2 separate regions of the Homo sapiens genome follow, and region 1 is linked to region 2. The links come from fine-mapping of genetic effects on gene expression. A gene starts in region 2. The other region holds a variant in brackets. All regions are shown on one strand. Distances are from middle to middle. Region 1 holds the start of LOC105376384 (a long non-coding RNA gene). Region 2 holds the start of FBH1 (F-box DNA helicase 1).

Evidence for each region. PIP is the estimated chance that this variant, and not a neighbour inherited with it, causes the effect.
Region 1: its variant is fine-mapped to the expression of FBH1 in whole blood (TOPMed, PIP above 0.99). The same link has a PIP of 0.9 or more in neutrophils.

What each region holds. Positions count from the first base shown.
Region 1 is chr10:5,941,017-5,949,326 of GRCh38, forward strand. It overlaps LOC105376384 (a long non-coding RNA gene), which reads right to left and starts at 4,898. Exons shown (of 2, transcript NR_188180.1): 1 at 4,639-4,898. It also overlaps a transcript of IL15RA not described here. RefSeq lists an enhancer at 4,099-4,657. The variant G/A (reference allele first, on the strand shown) is at 5,240.
Region 2 is chr10:5,885,791-5,894,118 of GRCh38, forward strand. FBH1 (F-box DNA helicase 1) reads left to right here and starts at 4,453. Exons shown (of 21, transcript NM_178150.3): 1 at 4,453-4,556. The coding sequence starts at 4,556. It overlaps ANKRD16 (ankyrin repeat domain 16), which reads right to left and starts at 4,103. Exons shown (of 8, transcript NM_019046.3): 1 at 3,251-4,103; 2 at 2,057-2,277. The coding sequence starts at 3,564. RefSeq lists silencers at 3,386-3,665, 3,676-3,785, 3,926-4,645, 4,836-4,885.

The sequences.
Region 1 (8,310 bases), 55 kb after region 2:
CAGTGGGAGGTGAAGATACGGACACCACGTAGACTAGTTCTCAGAAAGCAAGGCTGGCAAGAGGCAAGAAGTGGATAGGGGATGACGTGGCCTTAGGGAGGGGTTTTTGCTTTTAAAACGAGAGAGGTTTGTGCAGGGTTATGTGTTGAGAGGAAGCAAATTCAGAGAGGAGAGATGGAAGCCAGATGAGAGGGATTGGGACGGGAGAGATGAAGGAGAAAGGGGTACGTTGTAAGTGGTTAGGGAGGAAGTTTAGGTTGCTCTCACCCAATAATTTTCTGGTTTTTTTGAGACAGGGTCTTACTCTGTCACTCAGGCTGGAGTGCAGTGGTGCAGTGACAGTTCACTGTAGCCTTGACCTCCAGGCCCAGGTGACCCTCCCACCTCAGCCCCTCAAGTAGCTGGGACTACAGGTGCATGCCACCATGCCCGGCTAATTTTTGCTTATTTTTTGTAGAGATGAGGTGTCGCTCTGTTGCCCAGGCTGGTCTGAAACTCCTGGGCTCAAGCTGTCCACCTGCCTCAGTCTCCCAAAGTGCTGGGTTTAGCGTTTGGGATGGACATAGAAGGGAATGGAGTGGAAGGTGACGGAAAACACAGGTGTGCCGGGCAGCACCCTCCCAGTTGACATCAAACACCATCCTTTTAGCTGGTATTTTTCCTTTAGCAGCCCAGGCATGAGGGCAGAGACGTCGCATGGTGGACTCAGACACAGCTTAATAAACTTAAGGCAGTGCAGCACCCCCGTGGGACCTTCCTGCCTGGGAAGCTGGTCACTGTCACGCTGCCTGCCCAGCTTCCGTCCTGTAGTGGCATTTGGTCTGTGTCTGGGAGCAACTCACTGTATCACAAAGGGACTTTGACACCCCTAGAATCAGACTATTAGCAATTTAACATGTTTTTCAAGTCTGATCCTTGCCCTTCAGTCCTTCCTAGTCACCCTGAACCCCTGGCTTTAGCAATGTGGGGTACACCGAGAGCCTGGAAGCTGATCACTCTACATTTGCAGTGAGTGGGTGCGGTAGAGACGTCTGAACCGAGGCAGGCAGGGTTCCTCCAGCTCCTTGCCCAGACATGAAGACAGTGCTACACGCACGCCCCTGGCCAAGGCACCTCTGCACAGCTGGGCTGGTGTGGGGGGCAGGGCTCCCTTAGCCGGCAGGGGCTCTCCCTCTGCCTGGCCTACTTAAGGGACAGGTTCTCCATGAGGGCCCAGGAGGTGCCGTCCCCTGCGATCCTCCTCACTGGGGACCTGTGTGTGTTTTATCCCTAGTGGCGTGGGCTGAGAGGTAGGTTAGGTGGAGGGAGGGGGGCTTCCCACTCAAACGCCAAGGTCGCCAGTCGATCACTCCATTTGCTGTCTTCGTGACATCTCAGCCCTGCCATGTCCCACATGCAGCCCCTGATTTCCTTCCGAGCCTGGCTGGCTCCTCCACGCACCCTTCCCCACCTCCAGAAACAGCACCACCATCGGGCTGTGATACTTTTCTTCATGCCAGTTCACTGGGAAGCTCCACGCGGCCTCCAGGGTGCACCACCCACCCGCCCGCGACCCTCCACCGTTCTGCCTCCTGGACCAGTTGTAGTCTATGTTGCTCTGTGCCTCTGCCCTGGCCCAACTCGCTCCCATGTAGAGGGACCTGCAATCTTACAATGAAGACTAACGCCGGTCACCCTCCTGCCTCAACCCTGCAGGGCTCTCCTGTTGCGATGAGGGCGTCAGCCCAAGTTGGACCGCAGCGGAAAGGCTGGCGTTTCCTGTCCATTTCCAGGCTGGCCTCTGTCACCCTAAGCCTGTCTTTTAAAGGAACTCACTGAGGGCCCCAGGAAGCGGCCAGCACAGTGCTGACATCCTGGATTTTTCTTTTCTTCCTTTTTTAAATGTACAATTCAGTGGTTCTGATTTTTTTTTCTTTTCTTTTTTTTTTTTTTTTTTGAGACAGAGCCTCACTCTGTCACCCAGCCTGGAGTGCAGTGGTGAGATCTCCGCTCACTGCAACCTCTGCCTCCCGGGTTCAAGCGATTCTCCTGTCTCAGCCTCCCAAGTAGCTGGAATTACAAGCATATGTGACCACAACCAGCTAATTTTTGTATTTTTGGTAGAGACGGGGTTTCACCATGTCGGCCAGGCTGGTCTTGAACTCCTGACCTCAGGTGATCCACCTGCCTCAGCCTCCCAAAGTGCTGGGATTACAGGCGTGAGCCACTATGCCTGGCCTGAATTTTTTATTTTTTTTAAAGTAATCATTTTCCTAATACATGTCTTCCTAATCTGGACCCCACAGATTAAGAAATGCTTTAGTTTTTAATACCCATGGTATATTCTACTACCACTATGTGAAGAGTTGCAGTTAGAACTCTTCCAAAAGATCACATTAAAAAAAAAAATAGCATCAGCCTTTGGAGTCCAGGATGAACAATAAAATAAAAAATAAGTAGCATGGAGGTCACATGGAGAGAGCTTCACCAAGAATTGGCGACACCTGGTGACAGGTAACACTTTAATCAGCCTCACACACACATAATGGGGTCGGTCCCGCGTCCTCAGCCAGCTCCACGTATTTTAGAGTCTCTTACAACATCCCCACTTAATTGGCTGTGAGTGGCCCCAGAGCAAGGCTCTCAGGGGCGGGAAGCAGAAAGTGCTGATTCCACGGGCGTGCGGAGGAGGCTGGTGGCAGGGGCTCGGCTCAGCTGCTCCCAGGCATTCCTTCCTCCCCTGCTCATGTTCGGTGCCTCAGCGTCGCCGGGCAGGCTTCTCTTGGCCAGCCACCTGCAGGGCAGTGTCACGGGAGGCAAGGGAAGGGTAGGCTGGTCTTCTGTGTCTCTTAGGAGTGTGGCAGGCCGGGTCTCTCTTAGCAACCAGAGCAGCCAGCCTCACCAACACCTTACTATAACTCTGAGGAATATATAAATTAAACGAGGAAAATTGGAGAAACTGGTGCCTTAATACAAAGGCTAGAGTGTAAAAACAAGTCGATTAAGACCCCACCTGGGCTTTCTCCCAGACCTTAGAGTTTAATTAAAATAATGGAGGCGTTCTTGTGGACCTTGTACCATGATCCACTTTAAATTAAGTAATTGGGCCAGGAGCAGCGGCTCACGCCCGCAATCCCAGCACTTTGGGAGGCTGAGGGAGGAGGGTCGCTTGAGCCCAGGAGTTCAAGACCAGCCTGGGCAACATAGTGAGACCCTCCCTCTAAAATAAGAAAGAAAAAAAATGAAGTAATTGTTTCAAGGCTCTGAAGTAATTTTCCAGACCCCAGACCCTAGTGAAAGATTAAACAGAGGAATATACTTCAGCTTGGAGGTGTACTCCTGCACATAGGCATATGGTTTAAATGTGTATAAGCACTGAAAAAAAACTTATAATTTTAAATTAGTCTGGTGAGTTACTCTGACCTTCTCCCTGTAACCAGAAATAAACTCCCTTCTTCCCCACTCTGTCTGCAGCTTGTTATTGGACCATGAGAACAAGCAGCTGGACCTGGTTTTGTCTGGGAAGAGGCGCAAGAAAGCCTTTCCCACAGGCTTCTCCAGCTGACTCACATATTGTTGGTCAGAACTGGGCTACCTGCCCACTCCTAAGCCAATCATAGTAAGGAAGAATGGCTTCAAATCATCAGGGTTTTATTTCCTGGAGCTTGGGATGAGGTCAGCTTTCCATGATGCACACGGCTGGGTGAAATAATAAATCCTAAAAAAGTGGGAATGTATTTGCGAAGGAAGGGGCAGGTGCTGATTACCATGTAAGTAAATATACCTCATTAAGGAAGTGAACTCAACGTTTATTAGGAGCCTCCTGCAGGTAGACGCTATCAGGCCTTTGTGTATGTGAATTCCTTCAGTCCTCACAGCAAACCTGGGAGGCAGATGACAGCCGCCATTTGCAGATGAAGAAACAGGCTCTAAAGAGTCACGGGGCTGGGCCCACTGTGCTCAGTATCACAGAGCAGAGCTTGGATGAAAACTCAAGTTCAATCCCAAACCCATAGTATTTCCACTACCACTGTGTGAAGAGTTGGAGTTAGAACTCTTCCAAAAGATCAGTTTGTTTGTTTTTTTAAAGCATCTGCCTATGGAGTCCAGGATGAACAATAAAATAAATATTTAATAGCATGGAAGGCTTTCAGATGTTCTTAGCCATGGAATTCTTTAGGCTTAATTTTACTTCCAGTTAACAAATGCAGCCGCTGTGGTCACTCAGGAGGGGGATGGGCACCCAGAGTTCCTTCTCCGCTCCCGCCTGTGGTGGCCCCTCAGGTGCCTCTGCAGCCACCAGGGCTTCCCAGAACACTTGGAAAACACCTGCAGCCACTGCAGCCCCGGGACACTGACAGCAATTTGAGTACCCTCTGGGTGGCATTAACTCCAAGGAGATTTTGAAGATTACACCCCATTTTTGAATTATTTTGGAGACAAGAGTCCCACTCTGTCGCCCAGGCTGGAGCGCAGTGACGCGATCACCGCTCACTGCAGCCTCATGCTCCTGGGCTCAAGCGATCCTCCCACCTCAGATTCCTGAGTAGCTGGGACCCTAGGTGAGCCATGGCACCCAGTTATACACTTCTGTAACTAGGACTGTTGGCTCTCTGCCCAGAGGAATGAAGACACAGCTTCAGAAAGAGAAGCACTAACCTTCATGGTGAGGGCGTCCACCAGGAGGGAGTGGTTTTGCCAAGCGGGGACTTGAGGCAGACGGCCCAAGTTTCACCAACTGTGTTCAATCCTACGGGACCCTTGCTCTTTTTCAGTTTCATTTTCCTTCCAGTTACTGAGCAGCCCTCCCAGGACCCGAGGATGCAGGGCATGCAGGGGCGGCGCAGTGCTTCCCCGGCCAACCCCTGCCTTGCCGTCCGGTTGACCTGGCTGCCCAGCAGCCATGCTCTGTCTTTCCTGAACGTGTTGCTCAATTTCCTGTTTGGGTTTTTGCCTCCACCGCCCCCCCCCACCATTTAGAATGCTCCCTGCCCGTTTATTTAAATTCCACCCATCCTTCCAACTCACATCCTGCATTCCTCAAGCTTCCAGGCCTTGGAGCCATTTCTGCCTTTACTGGGCTCGTGTCCCATTAGTGTGTGTGCTTGTGGTGTAAGGTTTTGTTTCATATTTGTTCCGGTATGCTTCTCTTTTTGACCAGGCTGTAAACTTCTTGAGGATTAGTACCAGGCTTAACTGTCAGGATCTCTAGTGGCTAGCGAGGGGAGAGACAGACGCCAGGGTCTCCTGTGACCCTCAC[G/A]CCTCTGGGAAGGGAGTGCATGTGCCGTCATCCCCACTACAAAGATGAGGCAATGTCCGTGTGTGTAGTGTCTCCAAGTGACAGGGCCAGCAAAGGGTAGAATGGATGCTCAGCAAAGGGTAGAATGGATGCTCGACACTCAGGCTTTTAAGTTCTATCTTCTTTCCACTGCACAAAGATAGTATTTTGCAGATGCCACATGAATAGCACCGATAATAAGTGTTATGAAGGCTCAGAGGCAAATGATTTTGTACAACTGAGTCATTAGCCAAGGCTCCGGGGCTGGGCATGGTGGCTCACGCCTGTAGTCCCAGCACTATGGGAGGCCAAGGCGGGTGGATCACTTGAGATCAGGAGTTCCAGATCAGCCTGGACAACATGGCGAAACCCTGTCTCTATCAAAAATATAAAAATTAGCTGGGCATGGTGGCACGCACCTGTAGTCCCAGCTACTCAGGAAGCTGAGGCAGGAGAATCGCTTGAACTCGGGAGGCGGAGGTTGCAGTGAGTGGAGATCGTGCCACTGCACTCCAGCCTGAGCGACAGAGCGAGACTCTGTCTCAAAAAAAAAAACCCTCCAAAACTGAAACAACAGAGGCTCCTGGAGAAGGTAAACTTGATCTGGTTCTGGAAGGTGAGTTGGATGTAGGAGACTGTGAAGGAAGGACAGGGGCATTGGGCATTGGCTACGGGCTTGGCCTGTGAGGAGGCCGCAGGTGGGACGTGGGGGTGGAGGTGCTTGCAGCAGGGCCCGGCCCAGCCTTGGGGAGCTCTTGTTTCCACGGAACAGGCTGATTCCTGGGATCCTGAGGGTCTGATTGGGATTCTCAGCAAAGTTTTCTCCCCATGCAGAATGGGACAGGGGGAGGAAATTGTCAGCAGAACAGACTTCCTTTTGCAAGATGCCCCCCTCGAGCAGGAGGCAATGTTGCAGCATTGTCAGGCAGAACAGAGGGCTGCTTCTGAGGACAAGGGAGGGTGGGGGATCCTGTGAGTCCTCCAAATGTCCCCCTACATTTTTAATCCAGTACAGGAACCTCGCCCTTCTCCAATCAGTGCTCTCCCTTCAGCTGGGAAACCTGCTGGGGCCATGGATTCAGCTAATGTTCTTCCAACAACTTGACGGCTTAGACTGTTGTTTTTTTTTGGAGACTGTGTCTCCTCTGTCATCCAGGCTGGAGTGCTGTGGCATGATCTCGGCTCACTGCTACCTCCTGGGCTCAAGCAGTTCTCCCACCTCAGCCTCTTGAGTAGCTGGGACTACAGGCACATGCCACCACAACTGGCTAATTTTTGTATTTTTTGTAGAGACAGGGGTTTCGCCATGTTGTTTGGGCTGGTCTTGAACTCCTGGACTCAAGCGATCCACCTGCCTCGGCCTCCCAAAGTGTTTGGATTACAGGCATGAGCCACGGCGCCCAGCCAAAGGCTCAGACTCTTAAGATGGGTTTTCAGATATCCTGGCCTCGCATCTGTAAGGAATGAAATTCCGCGTTGTTCTAGGCAGTCTTTAGGTTTCAGCCTGTGGCTTGAATTCAGACTTTAGAGATTTGAACTTCTTATTCTCTAAGTTTTTCAGTGACATTAAAAGCAGCTACCCACTATGGGCTCAGATTTCTCATATCCATACGATTTCAGGATGGACGCAACATAGTCTCTGAGAGCCAGGCTTGCAGCAGGCATGACATCCCAGGCACCTCCTGGCGAACTAATTACCGAATTCCCTGGGCCGCTCCATTCCTGTCTCTGCATATCATCAGAACATTCACTCTTTTCTCTCGTCCCTAAGGCAGATAACCAGCCGCAGACACTCCTTATCTCCCCTCTTCTCCATAATTTGCAATACCCACTCCTGGTACCGAATTTCATATCAGCTAGGAACTTTTCAGTGACAAGTAATGAAAACAGAATCTGTTATAAAGAAAAAAAAATGTATTGGAAAGATACGAGGGGCTCATAGAATCCCGGAAAATGGGAGGCTTAGGTTTGGAATATGGTTAGGACCTAAAGACGCCTGGAGAGCCCAGAACAGGAGGCCCAGCAGCCAGTCAGAGCTTCTGAGGCCACTGCTGGCCACTGCCCTGTGAGTTCTGTGCTCTTCATTCTCTGTATTCAACAGCTTTGTAGTCTAGCTGAGAGGCCCTGGAGGCCACGCCCAGGCCAGGTGCCCACGCGTGGGGAGAGCAGGGAGAGGGGAGGTCAGCCCGTCTGTGTCAGTGGGTGATGAGGCACCCCAACAGGATGGAGGAGCCCCAGTGGAATTCTGCATTCCCATTCTTTCTCCTCCTTTGTGTGGAACATTTCTCCTTGGTGATTTTTTTTTTTTTTTTGAATTGGAGTCTCGCTGCGTCTCTCAGGCTGGAGTGCAGGGGTATGATCTCGGCTCACTGCAACCTCCACCCCCAGAGTTCAAGTGATTCTCCTGCCTCAGCCTCCCAAATAGCTGGGATTACAGACGCTCACCACCACGCCAGGCTAATTTTTGTGTTTTTAGTAGAGATGGGGTTTCACCATGTTGGCCAGGCTGGTCTCAATTTCCTGACCTCAGGTGATCCACCCGCCTCGGCCTCCCAAAGTACTGGGATTACAGGCATGAGCCACCCTGCCCGGCCATCCTTGGTGATTCTTTTAATGCATTTTAAAATATTGAAAATATATATTTTATTTTGTTTATACAAGGCACAATGTCAAAATACAAATCATATATAATGTGTAGATATAACAGACAAGGAAGTATAAATGCATATATATGTAAAATGGCGCTGAGATGAGTTTTCTTCTTCCTGAATCCTTCGATGGAGAGGATTCACTGGGCTTAGCATCTCCTCCACCTTTTCCGGCTCCCTGTCAGTGCGTGCAGCACAGCTGGAGACAGGGTCATTGGGAGGAGCCCAAACGCTGGTGTCTTCCCTATAGACATCTCCCACGCCAGGAGGAGCCTTGTAATTGACAGAGAGCCTCAGGTATGTCACTTTTCTCTGTGAGCTGCAAGTCAGGATGAGGGACGGACGGTTTCAGGAGAGGAGGAGGTGTTTCATCCTGAATAGCTAAGAACAGCACCACTAGAATGG
Region 2 (8,328 bases):
TTAGAGCTTTTTAGTGCACACACAAAATGCTTCCTGCCTCCTGGCTTTGCTCTCTGCCCCGTTCTATTAGTGATAGCTTACAAGAAGGAGTCATTAAATTGGGTACACTGTTACCGCCCTACACGAATAAATATTTAACTGGATAAAGCGGTAAACAATAATGTTTTCACTTTATATGTACACAGCCAACACTTGATTATCTTATCTTCACGTGCACTTTCATGGGAAACTTTCAATCCTAAAGTTACACTTCTGTGCTGTGGATCCCCAAGACTAGTCCATTTTTGCCCAGGAAATGCAAAATATTGTAACAGTAATCCATGGCAAAATAGCCTGGATTTAATTCCCCTACTAAAAGTAACTATACTCAAAGGTTATGACTATTTGTCTTCCACTATTTTGGGTGAATGATGGAGTGCTGATTGTTTCTCCAGGGGAGAAACTGGTCAAATAATTCATGAGCTAAAAAAAAGTTTTCTACTTACTTAAGAAGTTTTAGAAATGATTCCTTGGTCCCTAATTGCCAACTGTGGCTCATGCCTGTAATCCCAGCACTTTGGGAGGCCAAGGTGGGTGGATCACTTCAGGTCAGGAGTTCAAGACCAGCCTGGCCAACAAGGGGAAACCCCATCTCTACTAAAAATATGAAAATTAGCTGGGCATGGTGGCATGCGCCAGTAATCCCAGCTTCTCGGGAGACTGAGGCACGTGAATTGCTTGAACCTGCGAGGCAGAGGTTGCAGTGAGCCGAGATCGTGCCACTGTATTCCAGCCTGGGTGACAGAGCAAGACTCTGTCTCAAAAAAAAACAAAAGACAAAAAGCAACACTATAAAACATCACAAGTGATGATTTTTAGAGAAACTAAAAGCCCTCTATCCTAATCAATGTACTACCTAGAAAGCTACAAGTTATATTCTGAATTTCTTAATCTAGACTCTTGAGCTCCTTAATATCTAACTTCTGAAATTACAGTAATTTTACTTTTTACTAATTGTTTTCTTTTTACTTTCTTCAAACAAATGAGCAAATTGAAACTTTTTACTAAAATAATCTACAAATAGATAATTCAGAGTTAAGAGTCACTACTCCAAATAATAAAAACTGTAACCCAAATTTACATTAGATGTTATTGGGCCAAGGTATTTAATTATGAGTATCTATATTTATTTAAAAGTATAGCACTATGGTAGGTGTTACTAAGGCTATGAGGATATATATTTCCCTCCTGCCTTTAAGAGTAAGAATGTAAACATGATAAAGAAAATAGCACTAACCAGTTATTTTGTGCTATGTGCCAAGCATTGTCTAAAGGATTTACATACATCATGCTCTTTAAACTCTACAACAACCCTGAGACATACCATCACTGACATTATTATTTGGTTGATGAGGAAACTTGCTCAAGAGAGAGACTAATTTCCTTACCCAAGGTCAAAGACTATGTGCTACAGAACCAGCTCATGGGCAAATAATCTAGGGAGGATAACACAGATACACACGAAAAATAAATTAATACCACAGCATGCTAGCCAAGTTATGTTAACTTTAGAAATTGATTATATGCCAAAAGGCCCCTAGATGCTTTTTTTTTTTTTTTGAGATGGAGTTTTGCTCTTGTTGCCCAGGCTGTAGTGTAATGTAGTGCAATCTTGGCTTAGTACAACCTCTGCCTCCTGGGTTCAAGCCATTCTCCTGCCTCAGACTCTGGAGCTCCCCAGTAGCTGGGATTACAAGCAGCCGCCACCACGCCCGGCTAATTTTTTGTATTTTTAGTAGAGACGGCGTTTCACCATGTTGGCCAGGCTGGTCTTGAACGCCTGACCTCAGGTGATCCACCCGCCTCCGGCCTCCCAAAGTGCTGGGATTACAGGCGTGAGCCACTGCACCCGCGCCCCCGCCCCCACCCCCTCCCCCCCAGATGTTCTTATTCTCTGCCTTCTGTTTTCCAAAATCCTCCTTTCCCCTGAAGGTGACCTGAACAAGATGCGGTTGGGCAGTGCTGGGTGAAGCAGCCACATGTGTGTACTGCTCACCTGCAGAGCTGTAGGCTGTACCTGCAGTATGCAGAGGAGTCCTTCTAATTTTGCTCTCTGTCTTCCAGGCACCTGGGCAAACAGTGAGCAGGTACTGGAGGATCAGAGGGTCGCCTTCTCGACTGGCAATGTGGAAACTGTTCCAGCCATCTTTGTTCTTCAGGAGTGGATTGGCGCCATGTTCCACCAGCTCCTGGATCACCCCCAGGTTCTTCCTTGTGCAGGCCATCATCAGAGGAGTCCTAAGGCCAACCAGGAGAAGCTGTCAGATGGAGGCAGCTGAGACATTAGAAGCCAGGGGCCAGGTCTTCAAAACACACACATCCTTGGCACAGATGGAAAACCTAGAGGATTCAGGGGTCTGGCAGGCAGGAAAACAGCTTTGACCGGCAACCTCTGTGCCTTCTGTGAGGACCCTGGGAGAAATAATAAGGGGAAAATGATTGTAACGAACGTGTACCTAGAGGAGAGGGTGCCTGGGAGACAAAGCAGCTTATAAGCTAGTTCACAGGATAGCAGTGAATTGGAGCAGAGCTAAGAAAACCCACAGACAACCCTCAACACATAACGAAGTCTATTCCCCTGCCCCAGTGGGGAAGATGTACTTCCCTATGTTCCTAAAGATGTTCACGCCCTCTAACGAACCTGACCTAGTGAGTACTAAAATCAGTGTCAATCTAACAAACGAAATGCAATTGGCTTGTGTGATGGTGGAGCAGAGTATCTCTGACTGTGGTGGTTATGCAAGGCTGCACGTATGTGATACAACTGCACTGTGCTCTACACACACGAGCGCGTGTATAACTCAGGAATTCTGGATATTGATTGGAGCAATGCCACTTGAAACAATGCATTGGTGCAGAAGTAACTTAGCTAAATGTCCCCAGAACATCGCATCCGGAGGCTATCTGTATAGTGCACACACTTCATTGTTTGGTAACATTCTCTTTGGTTATATTCTACACTATTCCGTGCTCTAGAAAGGGAGGTGACTGCCCCGACCAGTTAACCCACAAGGGCAGGAACGAGGGACTCTGCAGGTCATCTGCGTTATAAGGGAAAGTTGGGCAGGAGGTCCCTGCCGCTGAGCAGGCCTGGGGTGAGAACTAGGAGCTGAGAACAGCTACGGTGTCCAAGGGGACGGAGAAGCACAGGGAACTCGCTACGACTCTGCGAGTAGAGGGGAGGCGGGGTGTCTTTCCGCTCCACACCTACCAGTCGGCCTTCTTCAGGCAGTCGACCGCTGCCCCCCGGCCCAGCAGGTAGCGCACGCAGTCTCGGTGGCCCATGGAGGCCGCCTCGTGCAGAGGCCGCTTGTAGTCTCGGTTGGTGGCCTCGATGTCCATGCCCCAGGCCTCGGCCAGATAGGCCAGCACGTCCCGATGCCCGTGGCGCGCGGCGCAGTGCAGGAGGGTATCCCCGGCCGGCCCCGGGCAGCCCCCGGCCGCCTGCAGCTCCTCCTTCAGGGCGCGCAGCCGGCCCTCCTGCACCAGCCTGCAGAGGCGCCGCGGGTCCCCGGGCTGGGCCATCGCCGCGGGTCGGGCCGGGCTGCGCGGGGAGGCGGCGGGCGGGACACCGGCGGCCGGGCAGGGAGAAGCCGAGGGCGAGTGGGACTTTCCGCCTCTTCACGCAACCTGCCCCGCGCGCCCCGAACCCGGCAGAACCGCCCCTCACGCCCCCGGCTTTGTCCCCGGCAGAGCCGCCTCCTCAAACCCCCGGCCTAGTCCGCAGGCGGGCTGCCCCCTCACAGCCCCGGCCTGCCCCGCGTGGGAGAAGCCGCGGTTCCGGGCACGGGGCGGTTTTTCCTCAGGGACGGAGCGGTCCGGGATGAGCACGGAGGGGCCTGGGGATCCGAGAGCGCTGGCGTCCGCCGTCCTGGAGCTGCAGCGGCCCGTACGTGATTCGGGACTGAACACGTAAGGGAGTGGGGCGCGCCGCTACACCGCAAAGCCCCAAAGTGGAGGGTCCGGGAGGGCGCGCACAGCCTCGCCCGGCGCCGTGCAGGGTGGCTCCTGAGGCAGCCAGGCCCAAGCGTGACCTGCCCCGCACGCGTCCTCAGGGCCGCCCCAGCCTCCAGCCCCTGGGGGCCGGCGTTCCTGGGCTCCGCCCCCGTCCCCGCCCCTCGACCGCCGCTGCTCCGCGGGGACTCGGGGAGCTCGAAGGAACTCTGGGAAAGTTTCCCGCTCCGCCCCGGCCCGAGCGGAAGCGCGGATGGGGCGTGGCCCGGTAGCTGTGGCCGCGCCCCCACCGATTGCGCATTTCGATTGGCGTTAGTGGCCGTCCGTCAGCACGCCCCCTCCGGTCTCGCGTCCCGATTGGTCGCGGGGGCCGTCAGTCCGGCTCCGGCGGCGGGCGCTTCCCGGGGCTGCGGCGGGGCGGAGCTCGCGGAGGAAGTCGGCGGGCGTCTCGGGCTCCAGGTCCCGGCCAGAGGAGGAGCTCGCTGCCGGGGGACGCTGGGCTGAGCGGCCGGCGGCGCGGGCCCGGCGGCGGCGGCAGCGGGGTCCGGGTCCGGAGCGCCACAGTGCGTGAGGCCGCAGACGTGGCAGGGAGTGTGGGAGGGGCTCCGCCGTGTGGAAAACTTAACCTCCGGGGTCCTGCGCGGGGGGTCCGGGCCCGGGGTGGGGCAGCGGGGGCCCCGGGGGCGCGAGGCTGGGCTCGGGCAAGCGCGGGCGTGGGGGCTCGGCCGTCCGGGCCGTGGGCAGGTGGAGGGCGCGGCGGGGGTGCGCGGGGGAGGCCAGGGCGCTCACTGAACTCGGTCGGGAGCGGCCCCCGCGCTGCCCCCCGAGGCCAGGAAGGCGCAGCGTGTGGGTCCTCGGGGCTGAAGGGGCAAGCGCGGGGACGTGGCCTCGGCTGCTAGGAGGCCAGGCTTTCCCGTCTACTCTGACGTTTTGACCTTGGGCAAGTCATTTTTCGCTGCCCTCTGCCCCTGTGTCATCGGTAGCTTCTCTGCCCCTCCTCTGAGCATGGGAAGCCTAAGGCGATGTGGGAGGCCTGGCGCTGGTGGAGGGCACGGCGAGAGCTGGGCAGGCTGTGGGTGATGGAAGAGATCAGTAGGTGTTGGGTTCCTTACCCGATCTGATTAGGTGCCAGTCACTTAACCTCTCCATGTTTTCGATTCCTTTAGGGAGTAGAATGGGAGTAGCTCCTATTTGCCAGGCCTAAAAACGAGTGCCGTTTACATTTTTTATTGCAGTCTGTGGTCCGAAGACAACCCTATGAGGCATCAGTAGGGTTTTACAGGTGGGGAAGTGGAGGCCTAACCAAGTCAGTGACTTTCTTACAGAATTACAGGTAATAAAGTCTTCTGGAAGGCAGGATGGTAGCATGTGTTGAGTGTCCGCCAGCGTCTGCCGCTGTGGTAAAATGAGCGGAGATAAATGAAAAGACTTCTGGAATGGGCCCATGAAGATAAGTCCGTTTTACTCATGAGCAGATTGAGTTTGGTTAAGGTAACAGTGATGTGGATAGCCTCTGGAGACAGAACTAGTCCAAGTACCAGCTTTGCTCAGGTTATTGTTCTGTCGTGCCTTGTCACTCCAGCAAAAGAAAAAAAGGAAGGCATAAAAGTTGTTTGAAATGCACAAAAGTGTAGGGCGTGCCAAGCAGTGTTCTGCTGCCGTTGAAGTTAGTGCAAATTGGAAGTTGAGGCATCTGGTAGCTTCATGCTTTTTGCTTTTACCCCTGCCCCTCTCCCAGTTTCAGATGACTATCTTCTCTTGCATTATGTCTCTAGTTTCCCTGTTTTTTAAACATAATTGGGACACACGGGTTCACAGTAGGTTGGAATATATATATATATTTTGAGACAGAGTCTCGCTCTGTTGCTCCGGGTGGAGTGCAGTGGCACGATCTCGGCTCACTGCAACCTCCCCCTCCCGGGTTCAAGCAATTCTCCTGCCTCAGCCTCCCGAGTAGCTGGGATTACAGGCGTGTGCCACCATGCTCGGCTAATTTTTTTGTATTTTTAGTAGAGACGGGGTTTCACCATGTTGGCCAGGCTGGTCTTTAAACTCCTGGCCTCAAGTAATTCACCCAGCTCGGCCTCCCAAATGCTGGGATTACAGGCGTGAGCCACCGTGCCTAGCCAGGTTGGAATATTTGAACCCAGGATAATTGGTTACTTCATTGGTGTTGCACATTCGATTCTGCCTCTTGTGTCTTCTCTATGAACCTTCTTTGCTCTGTATCCCCCTTTGGATAACTAAATGATAATGTATGTGAATCTGTCCCGCAGCTCCTGTGATTTTCTGGGCAAAAGCTTGGTCTAGAGGGGCGGGATCTGAACAGTAAGCTAATGGATGGAGCTGTTTCCTGGGTCTTGCTGTTTTCCGGTTGGGCTGCTCATTTCTTTCGTGCAGACTTTTGGAGGTTGTGGTCTGGCCTTTACAGTCACGTCACATGTAGTCGTCATTGGCACCGACTTGCTCCTTGGCTGCCCTTCCTTTTCCTCCTGTTTTTCATGGGTATGCTGTTGAGCATGCCCATTGGTACACTGATCATTTGACAGGTTTCGTGATTTGTGAGTGTGTGTAGACACCACTATTGGTATTAGATTTAGAATTCTAATTTTGGGTTTGTTGACATCATCTTTTTGCTGCTTATCTCATTCCTCTATCCCTCCTAGGCTGATTTTATTTGGAAACTGAATTTGGATTCCATCTTTGCCTTTCTGGCTGTGAAATTACCTACTTTTAGAAAGCATCTCAAATCTTATATCTGTAACTGTCATTCACATGCCTTTTGAAGACCAGTCTCAGATTTCAGAGGACCTCCTGGAGCATAAACATGGTATTCCACAGATAACTTAAAGCCAGAAATTATTTTTAAAACTAGGACTTTCAGCCTCCCTCTCACTCCGGGGGAAAAAGTGATTAAAACACAAACACTGTTTCTCTTTTATTCCTTAACATGGTTAATGACATTAACATCTCTTTGAATGTTCTACTAGAAATGCCAGTTATCCTTGTTGCTCTTTATCTTTTATCTTTCTGTCTTGTCAAACAAAGCCATGTTCTTATGCACCTGCAGGGTCTGCTACTCTCAGGCCTTTGCCAATTCTCACATAGGTTGATATGGTGGCTTTCTGAGTTGTTTTCCTGACAATCTCCATGTCTCTCCACCTTCTATCCTCTCTCCCGAGTCACTGTCCTAAAGTGTAAATTTGATTGTGTAATGACCCTGCTTTAAAAATTGGATGAGGCCGGGCGCGGTGGCTGACGCCTGTAATCCTACCACTTTGGGAGGCCGAGGCAGGTGTATTGCCTGAGCTCAGGAGTTCTAGACCAGCCTGGGCAACACGGTGAAATCCTATCTCTACTAAAATACAAAAAATTAGCTGGCTGTGGCGGTGTGCACCTGTAGTCCCAGCTACTCGGAAGACTGAGGCAGGAGAATCACTTGAACCTGGGAGGCGGAGGTTGCAATGAGCCGAGACTGTGCCATTGTACCCCAGCCTGGACCACAGACAGAGTGAGACTCTGTCTGAAAACAAAAAACAAACAAACAAACAAAATTGGATGATACCTTGAAGCCCCTACCTGATAAAGTCCAATTTCTTTTTTTGAAGCCCAATTTCTTTATCATTATGTGTAAGGACCTTTGTAGTCTGTGGCTCCAAATTCCTTTTCCAGCCTTATCTCCTGTCATTCCTCATCAGGGAACCTCTTGTTTTGATGAAGCCCAGCTTTCCTGCCACTCTAGTGCATTGTTAATGCCTCTGTATTTTTGCACACATTGTTTCCTTCCGCCTTACTGAATCCCATGATTCTTTCAAGACTCAACTCTTCGTGAAGCCTTTTTCAACTTGCCTAACTCTATTTATGTTTCTTTACTATCATAACACTTCATGCATGCATTTATGTAGTTGTTATATTACTTTATCTTTAGTAACTTGTGTTTGTTTTGGTAGCTGCCTTATGGGTAGGCTTATTCACTTTTGTATCACTAATGTCTAAAATAGCATTTAACACCAAGGATACCATAAGACAAAGCTCTCATGGAGTTTAAAATGAATCTGGGACATAGCAGATACGTAAAAGTAGTTGTGGAATGAATTGACTGTAGAAAAAGCCTTTCAAATATATAAAATTATATTCTAGACCATAAGTAGTGATCTTTCTCTTGTTTTTCAAACATTCCTTTCTTTCTTTAGGAAAAACATAGAACGGAAAGCCCAGCCCATCCTTGTTGGCTGTCATACACGAGTGCTGTCTCCAAGGGAGTCACAGGTGTCTCAGATGTGAGAGGATCCCGGGGAGATTGAGCTTACTGCCTGGGAACTTTTGGATTTCTGG